Linked DNA regions of Homo sapiens. The protein of the gene in region 4 purifies or fractionates together with the protein of the main gene of each other region. This does not show direct contact. Each region holds a gene or a part of one and is shown on either strand. Other genes may lie near its edges. The genes, in order: DIS3L2, APOBEC3F, PUM2, RTP3 and ELAVL2.

The links.
Region 1: the proteins of RTP3 (region 4) and DIS3L2 purify together in Homo sapiens (affinity purification with mass spectrometry; one large-scale study listed by BioGRID and IntAct). This does not show direct contact.
Region 2: the proteins of RTP3 (region 4) and APOBEC3F purify together in Homo sapiens (affinity purification with mass spectrometry; one large-scale study listed by BioGRID and IntAct). This does not show direct contact.
Region 3: the proteins of RTP3 (region 4) and PUM2 purify together in Homo sapiens (affinity purification with mass spectrometry; one large-scale study listed by BioGRID and IntAct). This does not show direct contact.
Region 5: the proteins of RTP3 (region 4) and ELAVL2 purify together in Homo sapiens (affinity purification with mass spectrometry; one large-scale study listed by BioGRID and IntAct). This does not show direct contact.

Annotation. Positions count from the first base shown.
Region 1 is NC_000002.12:232,083,699-232,087,219, forward strand, and holds part of DIS3L2 (DIS3-like exonuclease 2), read left to right. Parts: intron 1-3,521.
Region 2 is NC_000022.11:39,053,656-39,056,481, forward strand, and holds the end of APOBEC3F (DNA dC->dU-editing enzyme APOBEC-3F), read left to right. Parts: 3' UTR 1-2,317; downstream 2,318-2,826.
Region 3 is NC_000002.12:20,253,344-20,256,864, forward strand, and holds part of PUM2 (pumilio homolog 2), read right to left. Parts: intron 2,828-3,521; coding exon 2,690-2,827; intron 1,999-2,689; coding exon 1,873-1,998; intron 1,642-1,872; coding exon 1,520-1,641; intron 672-1,519; coding exon 479-671; intron 1-478. UniProt on the Homo sapiens protein: Sequence-specific RNA-binding protein that acts as a post-transcriptional repressor by binding the 3'-UTR of mRNA targets.
Region 4 is NC_000003.12:46,496,740-46,500,789, forward strand, and holds the start of RTP3 (receptor-transporting protein 3), read left to right. Parts: upstream 1-1,236; 5' UTR 1,237-1,323; coding exon 1,324-1,478; intron 1,479-3,616; coding exon 3,617-4,050.
Region 5 is NC_000009.12:23,816,235-23,819,755, forward strand, and holds part of ELAVL2 (ELAV-like protein 2), read right to left. Parts: intron 1-3,521.

The DNA.
Region 1 (3,521 bases), on a different chromosome or scaffold from region 4:
TGGCCAGGCTGGTCTTGAACTCCTGACTGCAAGTGATCTGCCTGCATTGTCCTTCCAAAGTGCTGGGATTACAGGTGTGAGCCACCACGCCAGGCCCATAATGTCTTTCCAGGAGACTACCTTTTACCTGCTAGACCAACTGCAGCATGACAGTTGCTTTCTTGCCCAGAACTTCTCTCTCTGAGATAAAGTATGTATGGGGATGATACAGGAAAAACCATTAAACCCGAGATTGTATATAGCCACCATGCTTTAGACATAGGGTATACACCTGTGCCTTCTGCCTGTGCTTAGGCTGCTCTGACAGTACCCAAGGTTGTATTAGTTCTTTGAGGATGGTCAGGGGCAGATGTTCCTAAATATTTCTGAATTTGCCAGGCATATTTAAGGAAATTGAATGAATTTGTTGATTTGAGTGATATCGGATTCTTTTTCTGCTGTAACTTGTCAGTAAATTTTCTTATTTTTGGATGATCTTCTTTGGGTCAGTTATGAAAACAAGGCTTATGTGGTAAAGCAGAAGTGCAGATGGGGGAGCTGGTTTTTTAATTGTACAGGCTGTGTATTCCTTATCCAGAATAAGGAATTCTTATCCAAAATAAGGTCCTTTTTGGGACCAGAAGTGTTTTTTTTGGGTTTGGGATGTTTTTCGGATTTTGGAATATTTACATTATACCAGTTGAGCATCCTAAATCCTAAAATCTGAAATCTGAAATGCTTCACTGAGCATATCTTTTGATTGTCATGTTGATGCTCAAAAAGTTTCAGATTTCAGACCATTTTGGATTTTCAGATTAGGGATGTTCAACCTGTGTATCAGTGCCCTAGCTGTAGCTTCACTCACATGAGCTCTTGCAGGAAGGGCCCTGCGGGAATCTTTTTGGAGATTGCTGGCCTGGCCAGTAGAACTTTTTTGTAGTATTAAAGAGAGGGAGATATGTCTGTTTCTAACTTCCCATTGACAGATGAATGGACAAATGAATGTATGAATCTGACATGAGTCAAAACAAGCAAAAAAGAAAATTTTATTAAATATACTCAGGGACTGGGAACCAAGTTTTTAAAAAAGTTTGCTCAAAAGTTTTGAGCACAGTTTTGCTCAAAAAAAAAAAAGCATTGTTTACAAGTTTTTCTATTACTATATTTTTATGGAGTCAATTTTTACAAACTGAGGATATATTCTTACCTTTATTCTGATCGTTCTTTGTAATATTTTACTTTGGTTTTCTGAGTTGATATTATAATATTAATTGTCTAGGAATGGTTATGTTAATTGAACCTACTGTATTAAAATGCTTTAGGAAAGATTTAATAACTTTTTCTCTCTTGTATAAGGTGAAGATCTTTCACTAAGCATGATCTTTGTGTTACTTTTAATTAGAACATTAGACCTATCAAATATAAACATGGTGAAACTGCTAGAGCTCTCTTACTTCATTCAGGTCTCTGCTCAAATGCTGCTTCCTCTAAGCAGTATTTCCTAATCACCCTACTGATAAACTAGGCACACCCTCTCCATTATTCTCTCATTTACTTAACGAGCTTTCTCATTCTTTCAATATATTTAATTGCGCTTCTCACTAGTCGACTTTTGATTGTGTTCACTGTTCTGCCCTTGGCACCTAGAACAGTTTCTGGCACCATGAAAGGGACTCCATAATGACTTGTTGAATGAGTAAATTGTTCATCATTTGTCACCCCACTAGGATGTAGGACTCATGACGGTGCCTGGCACGAGGTGGGCATTCCAACATTTGTTTGAAAGAATAAAAGGAATGTTTACAAGTAGTGATCAAATTCATTTTTTATATTTATGTATATACAGGTGATCATTTAAGTTTTAATTATATGTTTAAATTGAACATAGGTATTTATCATATAGAAATAGATTATTAAAAAGGATGCAGTATTCAAGTAACATCCAAGAACCTACAAAATCTGCTGCTTTTTTGCTAATGTGGATGGGCAGATTTACATGTAGGGTCACAATTTTTTTCAGTGACTCAATAACACCTGGTGTATTTTAATATAGTGTCCATAGACATCAGAGTGCTGTATGTGACAAACTCATAAAATGGATTAGTATCTGGATTGGTTTTTTATTTTATTTTATTTTATTTTTTTTAGAGCTAGAATATCCCTTTGTCGCCCAGGCTGGAGTGCTGTGGCGTGATCATAGCTTACTGTAACTCCTAACTCCTAGGCTCAAGTAATCTTCCCACTTCAGCCTCCCAAGTAGCTAGGACTACAGGCGCCCTGCCCCCCAACTATGCCTGGTTGATTTTTAAATTTTTTTTAGAGGCAAGGTCTCAATATGTTGCCCAGGCCGGTCTTAAACTCCTCCTGCCTTGGCCTCCCATAGCTCTGAGATTACAGGTGTGAGTCACTGTGCCTGGCCTGGATTTTTTTCCTCTACTTGCTTCATTAGTATTGTAGTGTAAATGTCCATCAGTGTGTGTGTGCTTTATACGTATATACGTATATATACACACGTATAGACGTGTATACGTATATATACACACGTATAGACGTGTATACGTATATATACACACGTATAGACGTGTATACGTGTATATACATATACGTATATATGTATACATATATACATATGTATATGTATATGCATATGCATATGTATATATACATATATGTATATATATGTGTATATGTATATGTATATGTATATGTATATGTATATGTGTATATATACATATACATGCAGAGAAAGACCTTTCACTGTGAGAAAGTTCAGCCTGCAGATTGTATAACAAAGTCAGAATTCTGGTACCTGTGATATTTTCTCCATGGTTGATGGGAACCAAATCCTTTGTGGAACCATTAGTGGCAGAAATAAATACATAATAGAAACTAAAGGCCTGAGCCTTTAAATATATATATATATATGTGTGTGTGTGTATATATATATATATACACATATATATATATGTATATATATATATATGTGTGTGTGTGTGTGTGTATATATATATTTTTTGAGACAGAGTCTCGCTCTGTCACCCAGACTGGATGGAGTGCAGTGGTGCCATCTCGGCTCGCTGCAAGCTCCGCCTCCTGGGTTCACACCATTCTCCTGCCTCAGCCTCCCAAGTAGCTGGGACTACAGGCACCCGCCACAACTCCTGGCTAATTTTTTTATATTTTTAGTAGAGACAGAGTTTCACCGTGTTAGCCAGGATGGTCTCAATCTCCTGACCTCATGATCCGCCCGCCTCAGCCTCCCAAAAGTGCTGGGATTACAGGCTTGAGCCACCGCGCCTGGCCAATAAAGCTTTATATTTTTATAAGAACATTTTATAAACTCTTGTTCACACTTAATTTTGTTTTTTTTCCACTTCATCTTGTATTCTTGTGGTTTCCTTGGTTTCCTTTAGGAACACTGTGGCATACTTTGTTGAGTTCTTTTATCATTCCCTAACTTACTAATTGTTCCTATATGGTGAGGGTTTATGAAGCAGCATGGTACTACTTCTGGTATTCAGGGCCTTTGGGGAGAGGGGATG
Region 2 (2,826 bases), on a different chromosome or scaffold from region 4:
AGTTGAAATGGGTATGTAAGTTGAAAACCAGAAGTTTTGAGAAACATCCTTTGTTAACTTTCATCCTACAAATTGGGTCATTCATGTCCTACGCAGCTAAAACAGAGCCCAGGAGCCAGGGAGGAAAAGCAGTCAGGCCACACACCATTGCTCCCAAAATGGACTTCTCTGCAAGCCTGACTCCTGAAACTGTGCATTGTACCCTGAAACCAGCTTTATCCATAGCTTCTGCAATAAATGGCTGTAAGTCTTGGACTCCTTGCTATAATCGCAGCTATTCAGCAATGGAACCTCCCAGTTCCCAACCCTTCCTAGTGCCCATGGGCTTTCCCATAGGACAAGAGAACATTTCTCCTTTTCTTTTTTTTTTTCTTTGAAATGGAGTCTCGCCCTGTCACCCAGGCTGGAGTGCAATGGTGCGGTCTCGGCTCACTGCAACCTCTGCCTCCCTTGTTCAAGTGATTCTCCTGTCTCAGCCTCCCGAGTAGCTGGGATTACAGGCGTCCACCACCAAACCAGGCTAATTTTTGTATTTTTCATAAAAACGGGTTTCATCATGTTTCCCAGGCTGGTCTTATTTTTATTTTATTTTTTGAGATGGAGTCTTGCTCTGTTGCCCAGGCTGGGGTGCAGTGGTGCAATCTGGGTTCACTGCAGCCTCTGCCGCCTGAGTTCAAGCTATTTTCCTACCTAAGCCTCCCAAGTAGCTGGGATTACATGCGCGTGCCACCACGCCTAGCTAATTTTTGTGTTTTTAGTAGAGACGGGGTTTCAACATCTTGACCAGGCTGGTCTTGAACTCCTGACCTCGTGATCCACCCGTCTCGGCCTCCCAAAGTGCTGGGATTACAGGCGTGAGCCACCTGGCCAGGCTTAGGCTGGTCTTAAACTCCTGACCTCAAGTGATCCAACCTCCTTGGCCTCCCAAATTGCTGGGATTGCTGGTGTGAGCCACAGCGCCTAGCCCATTTCTCCTTTTAATAGGACCTGTTGCTGTCTCTGTTCTCCCAACATGGTGAACACCACCCGGACTGCGTGTATGTCCCAAATTACAATTCTTTCTTTGCAAATGAAATGTGAAATTTAGAGGCCCTTCTCCACACTTTAAATTTGACTTGACATTTTCTAGGCAGATATAAGTTATTAGAGAATGAGATTCTCTATAAAAATGATCCCTTCATGCTGTGGCCTCCACAGAAGATGCCCTGGGCCAGGTGCCCACATGAATAATGCGGGCCACAGGCAGGCATTTATTTTCTCACAGATATGGAGGCTACAAGTCCAAGGTGGAGGGGTCGGCGGGGTTGTTTGCTCTGAGGCCGCTCCTCCTGGATGGCAGGGATCCCTTCTGGCTGTGTCCTCTGTGGCCTTTCCTCTATGAACCTGTACTGTACCTCTGGGGTCTCTCTGCTTCCAAATATCTTTTTTTTTTTTTTCAGACAGTTTTGCTCTTGTTTTCTAGGCTGGAGTGCAATGGCACAATCTCAGCTCACTGCAACCTCTGCCTTCCGAGTTCAAGCGATTCTCGTGCCTCAGCCTCCTGAGTAGCTGGGACTACAGGCGTGTGCCACCACGCCTGGCTAATTTTGTAGTTTTAGTAGAGACGGGGTTTCTCCATGTTGCTCAGGCTGGTCTTGAACTCATGAGCTCAGGCGATCCACTCTCCTCAGCCTCCCAAAGTGCTGGGATTACAGATATAAGCCACCATACACAACTTTTTTTTTTTTTTGAGATGGAGTTTCACTCTGTTGCCCAGGCTGGAGTGCTAAATAGCAGAATCACTGCTCACTGCAACCTCTGCCTGCTGGGTTCAAGCAATTCTCCCACCTCAGCCTCCTGAGTAGCTGGGATTACAGATGCCCAGAACCAATCTCTGCTAATTTTTCTATTTTTTAGTAGAGATGGGGTTTCACTGAGGAAGGAGACCACCTCTCTCATTGTCTCCTATTTCAGAAGGAAGCAAAAAGTTAGAAAGATGCAGAAGTAAGATCAATGGCCAGACTGTTTGGCGCTGCTACCTGGGCCTGGTAGTTAAAGATCAACTCCTGACCTGACCGCTTGTTTTATCTAAAGATTCCAGACATTGTATGAGGAAGCATTGTGAAACTTTCTGGTCTGTTCTGCTAGCCCCCACCACTGATGCATGTAGCCCCCCAGTCACGTAGCCCACGCTTGCACAATCTATCACGACCCTTTCACGTGGACCCCTTAGAATTGTAAGCCCTTAAAAGGGCCAGGGACTTCTTCAGGGAGCTCCAATCTTCAGATGCAAGTCTGTCAACGCTCCCAGCTGATTAAAGCCTCTTCCTTCCTAAAACTGGTGTCTGAGAGGTTTTGTCTGCAACCGTTCCTGCTACATCACCATGTACATTCCAGGCGAGGCTGGTCTCGAATTCCTGACGCCCACCTCTGCCTCCTAAAGTGCTGGGATTAAAGGCATGAGCCATGGCACCTGGTCGACCTTCTCCTTTATGGACCCCAGACAAATTAATTTGTGCCCACACTAGAGGTCTCATTTAAATTAATCATCTTGGTCGGGCGTGGTGGCTCACGCCTGTAATCCTAGCACTTTGGGAGGCTAAGGCAGGCAGATCACTTGAGGTCAGTGTCACACGTGTCCATGTGAAGAGACCACCAACAGGTTTTGTGTGAGCAACAAGGCTGTTTATTTCACCTGGGTGCAGGTGGGCTGAACCAGAAAAAGGAGTCAGCAAAGGGTGGTGGGATTATCATTAGTTCTTACAGGTTTGGGATAAACCTATCCCAAACCTATAAGTGTACATTCTTAAAGGCATACAAAGTACATTCTTAAGTGTGGGGGAGAAT
Region 3 (3,521 bases), on a different chromosome or scaffold from region 4:
CACAGGCATGTATCGTCATACCCAGCTAATTTTTAAATTTTTTGTAGAGATGGGGGTCTATGTTGTCCAGACTGGTCTTGAACTCCTGGGCTCAAGTGGTCTCCCACCACAGCCTCCCAAGTAGCTGGGACTAAAGGGTTGCACCATGATGCTTGTCTAATTGTTTTTCTTTTTTTTTTTTTGTAGAGGGAGGGTCTTGCCACATTGCTCAGGCTGGTCTCAAACTCCTGGGCTCAAGTGATCTTGTCACCTCAGCCTCCCAATCTGCTGGAATTATGGGCAAAAGCCCCCATGCCTGGCCATGATAACCTTAAGCATAAAAATGGAAACCATACCAATATATCTGCCAAAGGATATCCATCGATTTTAATTTTTCCTCCAGTTATAACATACGGGAGGAAATGAAAGCCCAAGGAGGTTAAATGTGTAGCCTAAACACAAAGACAAACAGTTATCTGAGTGTTACATGCTGTATTACCTTGTGCATGATTATCTTTCTCTGAGCAGGTTCAGCCATATCAATCATCTTTTGAACCACGTAATTGGCATACTGGTCCTTCATCATGGTGTATAAGGCACTGTGAGGACCATCATTCTGGCAGCAAACCTCGTCAATCAGTAAAGCTCTCTCAGCACGGGAGGCATGAGTAACACACTTTTCTACTACATTGCTAAAAATTAAAGCAGATAAACAAAGATTTGTTATTTTTTTCTTCACAGCAAAATTTCCTTGACTTATAGAAAGAATCTTCTCCAATGAACAATAAAACAGAAGTCAGGATGGGATTCTCTTGTCTTATGATTACTTTTATTTTATTTTGTTCTTTTTTTTTTTGAGACAGGGTCTTGTTCTGTCACCCGGGCTGGAGTGCAGTGATGCTATCACCGCTCACTGCAGCCTTGACCTCCCTTGCTGAAGTGATTCTCCCACCTCAGCCTCCCCCATAGCTGAGACTACAGGCATGCGCCACCACGCCTGGATAATTTTTTGTAGAGAAAGGATCTCCCTCTATGTTGTCCAGGCTGATCTCGAATTCCTGGGCTCGACTGATCCTCCTGCCTTGATCTCCCAAAGTGCTGGCTGGGATTACACGTGTGAGACACTGTACCCAGCCAATTACTTTTATAACAGAAATTGGTATCTTGGAACAACCTACATCATTTTGACATCCACAAGTTTAATTACAGGTCTCTTAAAATTGTACTTCAAAAAAAAGGAAACCAGATCATTAAAGCTGTGAGGTTTTCAAGAAACATGTACTAAATAAATCTGCATTTCCAGTGTCGGGAGTAATTATTTTCCAAATACAGATTTCATAAATGAACATATGTGGGCAAAACAAATTTGTTATGTAGATTTTTTTAAAAAACAAAAGCAATGTTCTATAGGTGCATTTTAATGATACCAAAAAAAAAAGACTACAGTTTAATGCTACATGCTACACGTATTTCTGTGATAACTAATAAAAGTCAATGAGTTGAAAGAATTGACCCTTAAAATTACAAAGTATTACAATACCTGGCAAATTTGTGTTGACTCAGGGCTAAAACCTTTCCCCTGATTTCGGAAACAATTTTGCTCTTGTCTTCAGGTCGACCGTGTTCCAGTACATGCTGAATAACATAATTGCCATACTGATCCTAAGACAGATATTTAAAAATTACTTTCCCTAAGTCATTCCTTAAGAATGATATTCTTTAAAGACATGTTAATCATTTCATCTAAAAATCCAGTAGGATAGTTAGGAGAATACAACAGCCTTTTGTCTCACTCTTGTCTATAGTGTGTTTAGTAACAAATTGTATTTCTTTTAAAAATTAAAACAATTTCCAAAAATATATAAACATTTCAAATTATTAGGGAATTTATACCTGTACCAACTGCTCTGTATGTTGGTGGAGTTCTTCTAAGATAGGTAAGGTCTGTTCTGCAGTGCAATGCTCTAGGATGCGCTGAATTACTCTGCAGCCATAAGGATGAGTTGAAAGCACAAATACCTGAGGACAATTAGAAGAATTAAAATTTGTATTCTCTGACATTTTTGAACAGTTCTATGAAGCAGACTGGTTTGTTTTTTTTTTTTTTGACAACACCTAAAAGCAGTTTGAAATAGAAGGGTGATGAACTCACATTTAATATGACTACCACCATGTTAGAAAAGACTGGAGAGTGGGGACAGGGAGCACTCCATTTAGGAGCTGAAGATATTTTGATCAAAAGGAACCTAACCAGAACTTTACCTGAACCTGAGGTTATGTAACAATGGGAATGAATGGGTGAAAAGAGAAAGGGTAGTTCAGCATTAAGAAATATTAATTACTATGTATTAGTTACAAATTGCTATGTGTTTTCTGTCTTATTATACAGTCTTATGTCTTTCTCCAAACCTCCTTCCCTTCTCTGAGTAAACCTGAAAACATCGTTGGGTATAAATAAAAAACAATTCTAACAGTGATTACCTTTACTTCTTAAAGTAATGTGATTAAACTATTTGTTTTGCAGCTTCAGAAAAATGAAGCTATCTACTGACTATGAAAGAGGAAGAAATTAATGTACATTTACTGTTTTGTATCCTATTTTTGTATACAATTGCTGGGTATTATCTAGTGACTCATGAAAAACGTGTTGATATTCAAAATTCTAAAATAATGCCCTGCTAACAAATTATAAGCCAAAACTCAAACATACTTGTCCCTTGAAAGCATCAATGATGAACTGTAGTGACTGTGGCTGAACACATTCGATACATTTTTGTACAACATGGTTTCCATTCTGATCTTTCACACATTTGAGCACATGACCATCCAGCTCCTTTACCATTTCACTCTGCAAAAGACAGGATGTCATTTAAATTATTACCTCAAACGAGAAAATACTAGTATATTTTATCTCAGTATTAAAAATTAAAAATATTAAAAATCTCAGTATATTTATCTCAGTATTAAAAATACTGAGATGGGAACACAAATATATTCACAAATATTATTTCCTGTTTGTCAAGGGTTTAAATTTTTTTCTCTTGTAGTATAATTAGCAGAAACCATTGAAAAGTGAAAATTACTAAAACACACTGCAGGATTATAATGTAAATGATGTATGTTGAAACAACGTAGTGATGCTGAACTTGCTGTATTTAAACTGTCTTCACTGTGTAAATCATCCGCTAATATTTATCGGGCGGTAACTAACATGACTAATTCAGAATTACACACTTCCGCCTTACTTAGTACCACCTCCACCACCAAAGGAATTATTTTTAATGGCTGAGTGAGTTTATCAAGTACATAGAAAAGGCTAAGAAGTTGATGACTACTTATGGGCTATGATTTTTACATATTATCTCAATAATTCCCTAAGGGAAGAATTAATGTCAGGTATCTTTGTTCTTTTATAAAATGCTCTTATAATAAAGTGCTTATAGCCAGATGCGATGGCTCACACCTGTAATCCCAGCACTTTGGGAGCCTGAGGCTGGTGGATCACCTGAGCTCAGGAGTTTTGAGACCAGCCCGGGCGACAT
Region 4 (4,050 bases):
TTTTTAGTTAGCAGTTTAAAATCAATAAAGTGTAACAACTATTTACATAGCATTTACATTGTATTAGGTATTATAAGTAATCTAGAGATCAATTAAAGTATACAGAAGGATGTGCATAGATTATATGCAAATACTATGTCATTTTGTATAAGGGACCTGAGCATCTGAGGATTTTGCTATCTGCAGGGGGCGCTGGAACCAATCCACCTGGAACTGAGGGACAGCTCTAATGCTGAGAAACAAAACTGGCTTGGAAAGAGGGGAGACCCAGGACTTGAGCCTGCCGAGGAGCTAAACCCAAGGGCAAGAGCTGCAGGCAGCTGGGCTGGAGAGGAGGAAGGAGGTGGCTTTGTTTCCAACTGCCCTGGAAGACCTCCTCATCCCCCTGCATCCCCAGCCTCCTTTCCTTTTTCCTTCCTGCTCTGCTCCCTTCCTTCCTCTCCTCCTCTTGGGAGGTGGCCAGGGACATAGGTCAGTGCCTGGCCCCGAGGAAGACACATGCAGTTTGTGGACGGGTCTTGGGATGCGGACACCCAGAGTCTTGTGCACCTTCCTGGAGTGTTGCCCACTCCAGTACCCACTCCCTAATCTCCCCTCTTCCTCCTCAATCCTCTCTTGCAGGAAGCAGAGGATGGAGAACCCCCTCAGGAAGGAGGGCAGTGACTCTGGGTTTGCCTAGGGCTAATGGCCTCTCACCGACCTGTGCCCTTGTACCTGTCGCCTGGGCAAACAGTGATTGCATCAGCTTTGGTTTCTCATGGGTGGGCAGCCTTGGCTGTCTGCCGGAACGTAAAGAGCATGGAGCAAGGACATGGGAATCCGAATCCCGCTGAGGTCCCAGGACCACTTCATCCTTCTTCCCTGTGCCTCTCCTCCCCAGCATGAGCACAGCAGCCTGATGGAGAAGGATTTTCCAATGTTAGAACTGGAAAGAACACCTGTAGCCTGTCTCCACCGTTTACAGTGGTGCTGGAAGTGAAAAGATGTGTTCCAGGTCACAGGCAGGTAGACAGCGGAGCCAGACTGAAATTCACTCCTCCTGATTTGGAGTTTAGAGCTCTTCTTTGGCAACATTTTGATGAATAAAATCACAAGTTCTGTGTCTTTTGAAATTCCTTGTGGAGCCTAGTGCCATCCTCTGAACTTGGAGCCAACTGACCTTTGTCCTTGGGGCAGAGACATGGTTCATGGGCCCAATCCAGGTCCTCAAAGGGAGGGCAGGTCTGAGTCCTTGCCCTCTGAAGTCAGAAACCTCATCTCCCACTACAGACCTGCCAGGGCCCAGGAGAGCTCGACCCACCCAGGCACACCATAGCCCCAGAGATGGCTGGGGACACAGAAGTGTGGAAGCAAATGTTTCAGGAGTTAATGCGGGAGGTGAAGCCATGGCACAGGTGGACCCTGAGACCAGACAAGGGCCTTCTTCCCAACGTCCTGAAGCCAGGCTGGATGCAATACCAGCAGTGGACCTTCGCCAGGTGAGGGGGAATGTGATGGTACACGTTCCAGAAAATTCTTGCACATTTCTTACTAGGTATACCTGTTACTTTTCTTGTTCTATTCTGTGCTTTCAAATTGAAGACTATGGGTAATAAGATGCCCATCATCCAAGAAGTTGTAACTTCATTAAAGATCGTTTTTTCACTATTACAATGAACCCCAAAGCAAGAGCAGGCCTGAGCACCCTTGTGAGCTAATGCCTGGATACAGAGAAATCAGTCTGTGGGGGTGGGGAGAGGGAGCAGCCAGGAAAGGGGAGGGGAGGAAGGGCAGCTGTTGCACCCACGGGCGGTGCATGTGCCCCATGCCTAGGGAGACTGCTGGACCCACCTTGGAGCCCCTAGGAGGAGAGACTCACGGCACTGAGCAGACACCCTCGGGGGAGGCCGGAGGAGCAGGGGGCCTGGGCAACAGGCAGCAATCCTGCCCCTCTCTACTCTGAGCTGATAGAATCTTTTTAAAATAGGAGTCTTAGAAATCATCCTAAGCCTCATCCTCTCTTTCCCAGGTGGAAATGGGGAGCCCCAAGGCTTGGGGCTGATTGCCCACAGTGCACAGAGGGTGGAGGCCGGGTCCCACCCGCTGTCCCCTCCCAGGGAGAGTCTACATAGAGGGGGCAGAGCTCTCCCACTGGCCTATGGCTATCCCAGGCCAGGAGCTGCCATAGGGAGCATTGCACCAAAGTCTCAGTCCATTTATCCATGGGAAGTTTGAACTCTGAACAAGCACAGGAACAGAGCACTGAGACCCAGGGGATGGCAGTGGACTTCTGCTCAGAACAGGGCCCAGGCCCCTCTGCACTGCTGACTCTGGGTGACTCCCAGCAAGGTCCTCTCACAGTGATCACAGCTTCTTGGCCTCTCCCTCTCATTTCAACCTTGCATTCACCCTGTGGGTTGCGGCTAGAGTCAAGATACAGGAGCACACCCTGGACTAACTCCCTCTTCCCAGCCCCCTCCAATTCACCACCTGCAGCCTAATTTCTCTGTATCCAGGCATCGGGGGCTCAGCCACAGTGACAAATAAACCTGGAAATATCACTGATTTAACCTTACACGTGGCTCCCAAGGTCACCGAAGCAGAGGAGGAGAGAGCTGGAATGTCTTACCAAGGCTTCTGTGACCATATCTGGAAGGAACATATATCACTGCTGGCCTCATCTCATTGCCCAACTGGTCCCATGGCCCCAGCCTCACGGCAAAGGGGCTGGGAAGTGGGAGGGAGTGCATGGATAATTTGGTGAGCATTAAATGTCTCCGCCACAGTGCAGCTCTCTGCCTCTCCCATAATTCCTTTCCCAGGTGCAGCCATGTGCTTCCTGCCTTCTTCTCTCTCTACCTCCTGACATGTATTTGTCCAGATACCTTAGCTCAAAAACTGCCCTCCTCCCTGCTGAGACAAGGTGTATTATCTTGTATCCTGTCTGAAGCCAGTGGCATTCAGAATATGAAGTTTTCCAGGCTACCTTGAGCAAGGGAACTGGGTTGGAGGGGAAACAAATGAAGAGAGAGCTGGACACTGTGATCTCCCTGCAATACCGCAGACCAGGGACCCTCGGCAGCCAAGAGAAAGGCAAAGGCTTTCCTCTAGGAGAACCCTGGACACTTCAGGCTCCCACCGCCAACCCATGAGTCTATAACTTAATCAACACCCACCTATAGGCATTTGTGGATTTCAGGGTCCTGAACTGAACTGGCTGCTGTTGCAGTTGTGGCCTCTGACCCATTTGAATCTACATTTGAAGAAGCTTTGCTTTGGAATAGGGAGACCACAGTCCCAGTCATGCCTTTTTACACCCACTGGGTCTCTGGACATGAGGAGTTTCCAGAGTGTGCCTCATCTCTAAAATGGACGTGTTGGACTTAGAAGATGCCCAAGGTCCCTCCCAGATCTAACAGCTTGCAATTCACTGTTTTCATAGCAGACACTGTGCAGCATGCAGTGTGTCAGTGGCACAATGGAGATGGGAAAGAGGTCTTAGCAATTTCTTCCACCACTGAGCCACAGCCCCAGTCAAGTCATGTCTCTGTGCAGTCGGTAGCTCCTTTCTCTCTCTGGCAGTTCCCCGTGATTTGGTCACATGGAGCCAGGCTGAGACTCTCTTCTGTCTCCACAGGTTCCAGTGCTCCTCCTGCTCTCGTAACTGGGCCTCTGCCCAAGTTCTGGTCCTTTTCCACATGAACTGGAGTGAGGAGAAGTCCAGGGGCCAGGTGAAGATGAGGGTGTTTACCCAGAGATGTAAGAAGTGCCCCCAACCTCTGTTTGAGGACCCTGAGTTCACACAAGAGAACATCTCAAGGATCCTGAAAAACCTGGTGTTCCGAATTCTGAAGAAATGCTATAGAGGAAGATTTCAGTTGATAGAGGAGGTTCCTATGATCAAGGACATCTCTCTTGAAGGGCCACACAATAGTGACAACTGTGAGGCATGTCTGCAGGGCTTCTGTGCTGGGCCCATACAGGTTACAAGCCTCCCCCCATCTCAGACCCCAAGAGTACACTCCATTTACAAGGTGGAGGAGGTAGTTAAGCCCTGGGCCTCAGGAGAGA
Region 5 (3,521 bases), on a different chromosome or scaffold from region 4:
TAAGAATCTCAAAACAACTATCATTCCCTAGTCCCATAAAGAGATGAAATTAGTCAAGAAAGTGTGTACTAAAAGCTTTCAGTAAAAAAAAAAAAAAAAAAAAAAAAAAAAAGGGGATAAAAATCCATCTTGAAGGAATAGTTTATTGCTTTGATATTTATAAAAGATTTTTGTGATATCCTATTAACATAGTCTTTAAAGTTGCTGAAATAATCTCCAATAATGAACAACCCACAAAAACAAAATGCTGGAAGAAAAGAACATTTAGAATATAAATTTCCCTTTCATGATAAACTTTTTAAGTCAAAGGAAAAACCCAAGGATTAAATCTATCACTACAGATGGTCCCCAATTTATGATGGTTCAAACTTACGATTTTTCAACTGTATGGTGATATAAAAGTAACACACGTTTAGGAGAAACTATATTTTGAATTTTGATCCTTTCCCGGGCTAGCAGTCTATGGTAAGAGACTCTCTCGATATAGGGCAATGGTAGCAAGCCACAGCTCCCACTCAGGCAATGGATCATGAGAGTGAAAAATGGATACTCTGTGTTGCCAGATGATTTTGCCCAACTATAACATAAATGTTCTGAGCATGTTTAAGGTAGGCTAGACTAAGCTCTGATATTCAGTAGGTTAGGCGTATTAAATACATTTTTAACTTAATGCCATTTTCAACTTGCAATGGGTTTATCAGGAGCATCTGTATTAGATTGGCCAACGGAAAAATATACAGGTACATCAAACTGTAGATAACATACCTGGTTCAAAATATACCAGTGCTAAAGCAAAACCTTCACTGTGTCTTAAAAAAAAAAACCTATCATTTTACTGTTACTGTCTTACAGTAAGTATAATTTTAAATTTGTCAAGTTTTTTAAAATACATTTTTAAAAGTGGGAAAGGGGATTTTGCATGTCAGACCTTATCTCCTATTCATTTTCAGTCAGAAACTGATGTAATAGATATCAGTAATATAAATATATACTAAGAAACTGCAAGTTTATTTAAAAAAAAGACACTGTAAGGCATTCTATAAACTGGTTTAGTTTTATCCCCATTCCACCTATTCTTATGACTTTCTGGGTTATTTTACCTATTTTACTCCTCAAAGCCCCCATCCTTCTCTTCATAAAGATTTCTTACAACGAAAACCTGTATCTGTTGTCACACAGAACTATTCAGCAATATTCAAAAAGGTACCATGTCATTAAGCATATCAATTCAGTTCACGCATTGAGAGCCTAACTCAAAGCTCTGAGAAAAGAATGCTCGTTGCAAAAATAGTTATTTTTATTAAGACCAATCTCTAGAAACTTAACATTGATATTAAAGATGAAGATGTCTATGAGAATGCATTTAGCACAGCGTTGCTCACACAAGAGTTACCTTTTGTTTTGTTTTGCACAATGGAATACAAGCTTAGAGATAAAAAAAATTCTTCCCTTGAAATAAAAAATTCTTCTAGCCTTACTAAAATGAAACATATGATACACATCACACAAGCTGAAAGCCAAATCTGTTAAATTTACTAGTGAAAAATGTCCTAAGTACCCCACAAAAATCTAAGATTTTATTACGCAAACTTTGACTTTTAATTCAGACTCCAAAAGTTATCATTTAAATCATAATAAAACACTTATCTTTTAATATGTAAAAGCCTTAAAATAAGCACTGCCTTTCAAGCTTAAGTGTCTTCTGTTTCCACTTGGCAAATTTACGTTATGTGAAATCCTTAAATAATTAACTAGCACTATAAACCGTCTAGTATCTCGAACCAAATAAATATACAATAAATGTTCTTCCCAAATTAGAACATACAAAAGTGTGGATTTGGCACTGAACTACAATATGTGGGCTCTGTGCGTAACCAGAACCGGTGAAGACTTCTACACCTGTAAAATGAAAATGGCCAAAGCAAGAAAAAATTTTATGCATTTTATGTCCTCCATAGTGAATTTGATAGTCAGGTGTGGCATCACTAGACATAAAGCCTTCAAACAGTTCTATAATATATCAACAAAGCAGCAATACTGACAGCTAAATACTAACAAGTGGGAAGGCAACTAACCAGGAAAAGCTACGTAATCTGTGGGTCCCAGTGCAAGATGAAAATGCAGGGTAACCTTGTCCAAAAATTCTTAAGAATTTCAAGATTGGGTAGGATGTGCAACCATACCGGTTACAAGCTGGAAAAGCAGTCCTGCCCATAACTAAGTACTCACGCCAAAAATAAAATTAACCTCCCCCCACACACACTCAAATGTGGTAGCTTACTATCATTTTTGACCTGTCCAGCTGAGTAGCCAAGAAACAAAGAGCTGGGGGTAGACTGAGATGGGCAGGTTTTCCACAGGGTGGCACACCATCTAGCCCCCTTAAAATGTCAACAAAAAAGTAACCAAACCAAGCTAAGTACCACAGATTCTAGCCTCTCTCAATTCCAAATAAACATTATGAGTGATAAAAGTGGCAATAAGAATGTGACGATGTGATAGATTTAATAAGACATCAAATGGGAGCGAAAATACTGATGCTACCATGCAGACAAGTCATCAAAAAGGGGAATGGTAAAGTCAGTCTTGATAAGAAGCTTAAGAAGCTATTTCAGAGTATCTAGTCCTTTGGGGAAAAAGAACATGAAGGCTAATTTGCCACTGTGGTGCTCTTGTGCAATGCCAATAATGCCTGAAAAGCGTCACAGGTTTTTTAAAAAAATGTCTTTCAGCAAAGAAAGAGGAAAAGGTTGATCCCAGCTTAAAAGTCAGGATATTCTGGAAGGCTTTGCTGTGTCCTTAAAGAGAACCTAAGACTTGCTTCTAGAATAGAAGTGGGGTGGCAGGAGGGGAGGCACATTATTTTTAAAAGATAAGCAGGGAAGGCTGGAAGAGCCAAGAGCGGTTGGTTACAAGGATTCAGCTAGCAGCATCTGTCTGTGTATAAATAATCAAAAGGTTGATTCAAGGAATGATGGTATATGACACTCACAGCATCATTCTCCCTTAACCTACCAGGAGCTGAGTCTTAACTAAAACCACTGAAACTGGGACAGAAAGGCTTTGTTTTTCTCTTGTGAAGAGGCGGTAACCAGAACAAATCAACCAAAAAAACTAAATCAGAGAGGATCTATAAAAACACATCTTAGGCCTAGAAAAGAAAAAAGGTTCCATAGTAACCTTTTGACACTGAGTGTCAAAAGAGTGGTAGACACTGACCAGCAGTGGGTACTTGCTCTAAACAAGAAGCATATCCTATAACTAAAATTATCTTGAACCACAGGGAAAGTGTGTGAGCACTGAATATAGCTGACTTGATTGTTCCTGAAAGAAGACACTACACAATGAAGGAAACACCTACAGATAAGGAAGAGGGAGGGGCTTAACACCTAAAGTTGTCTTTCAAAGGAAGAAAAAAACAACTAACTCCCTGAAAGGTGGCAGCACAAAGTTACCCAAATAACAGGCAACAAGGGGCTGGTTTTAACCACACAAAAATAAAAATACTCTCTCAAAAAGGA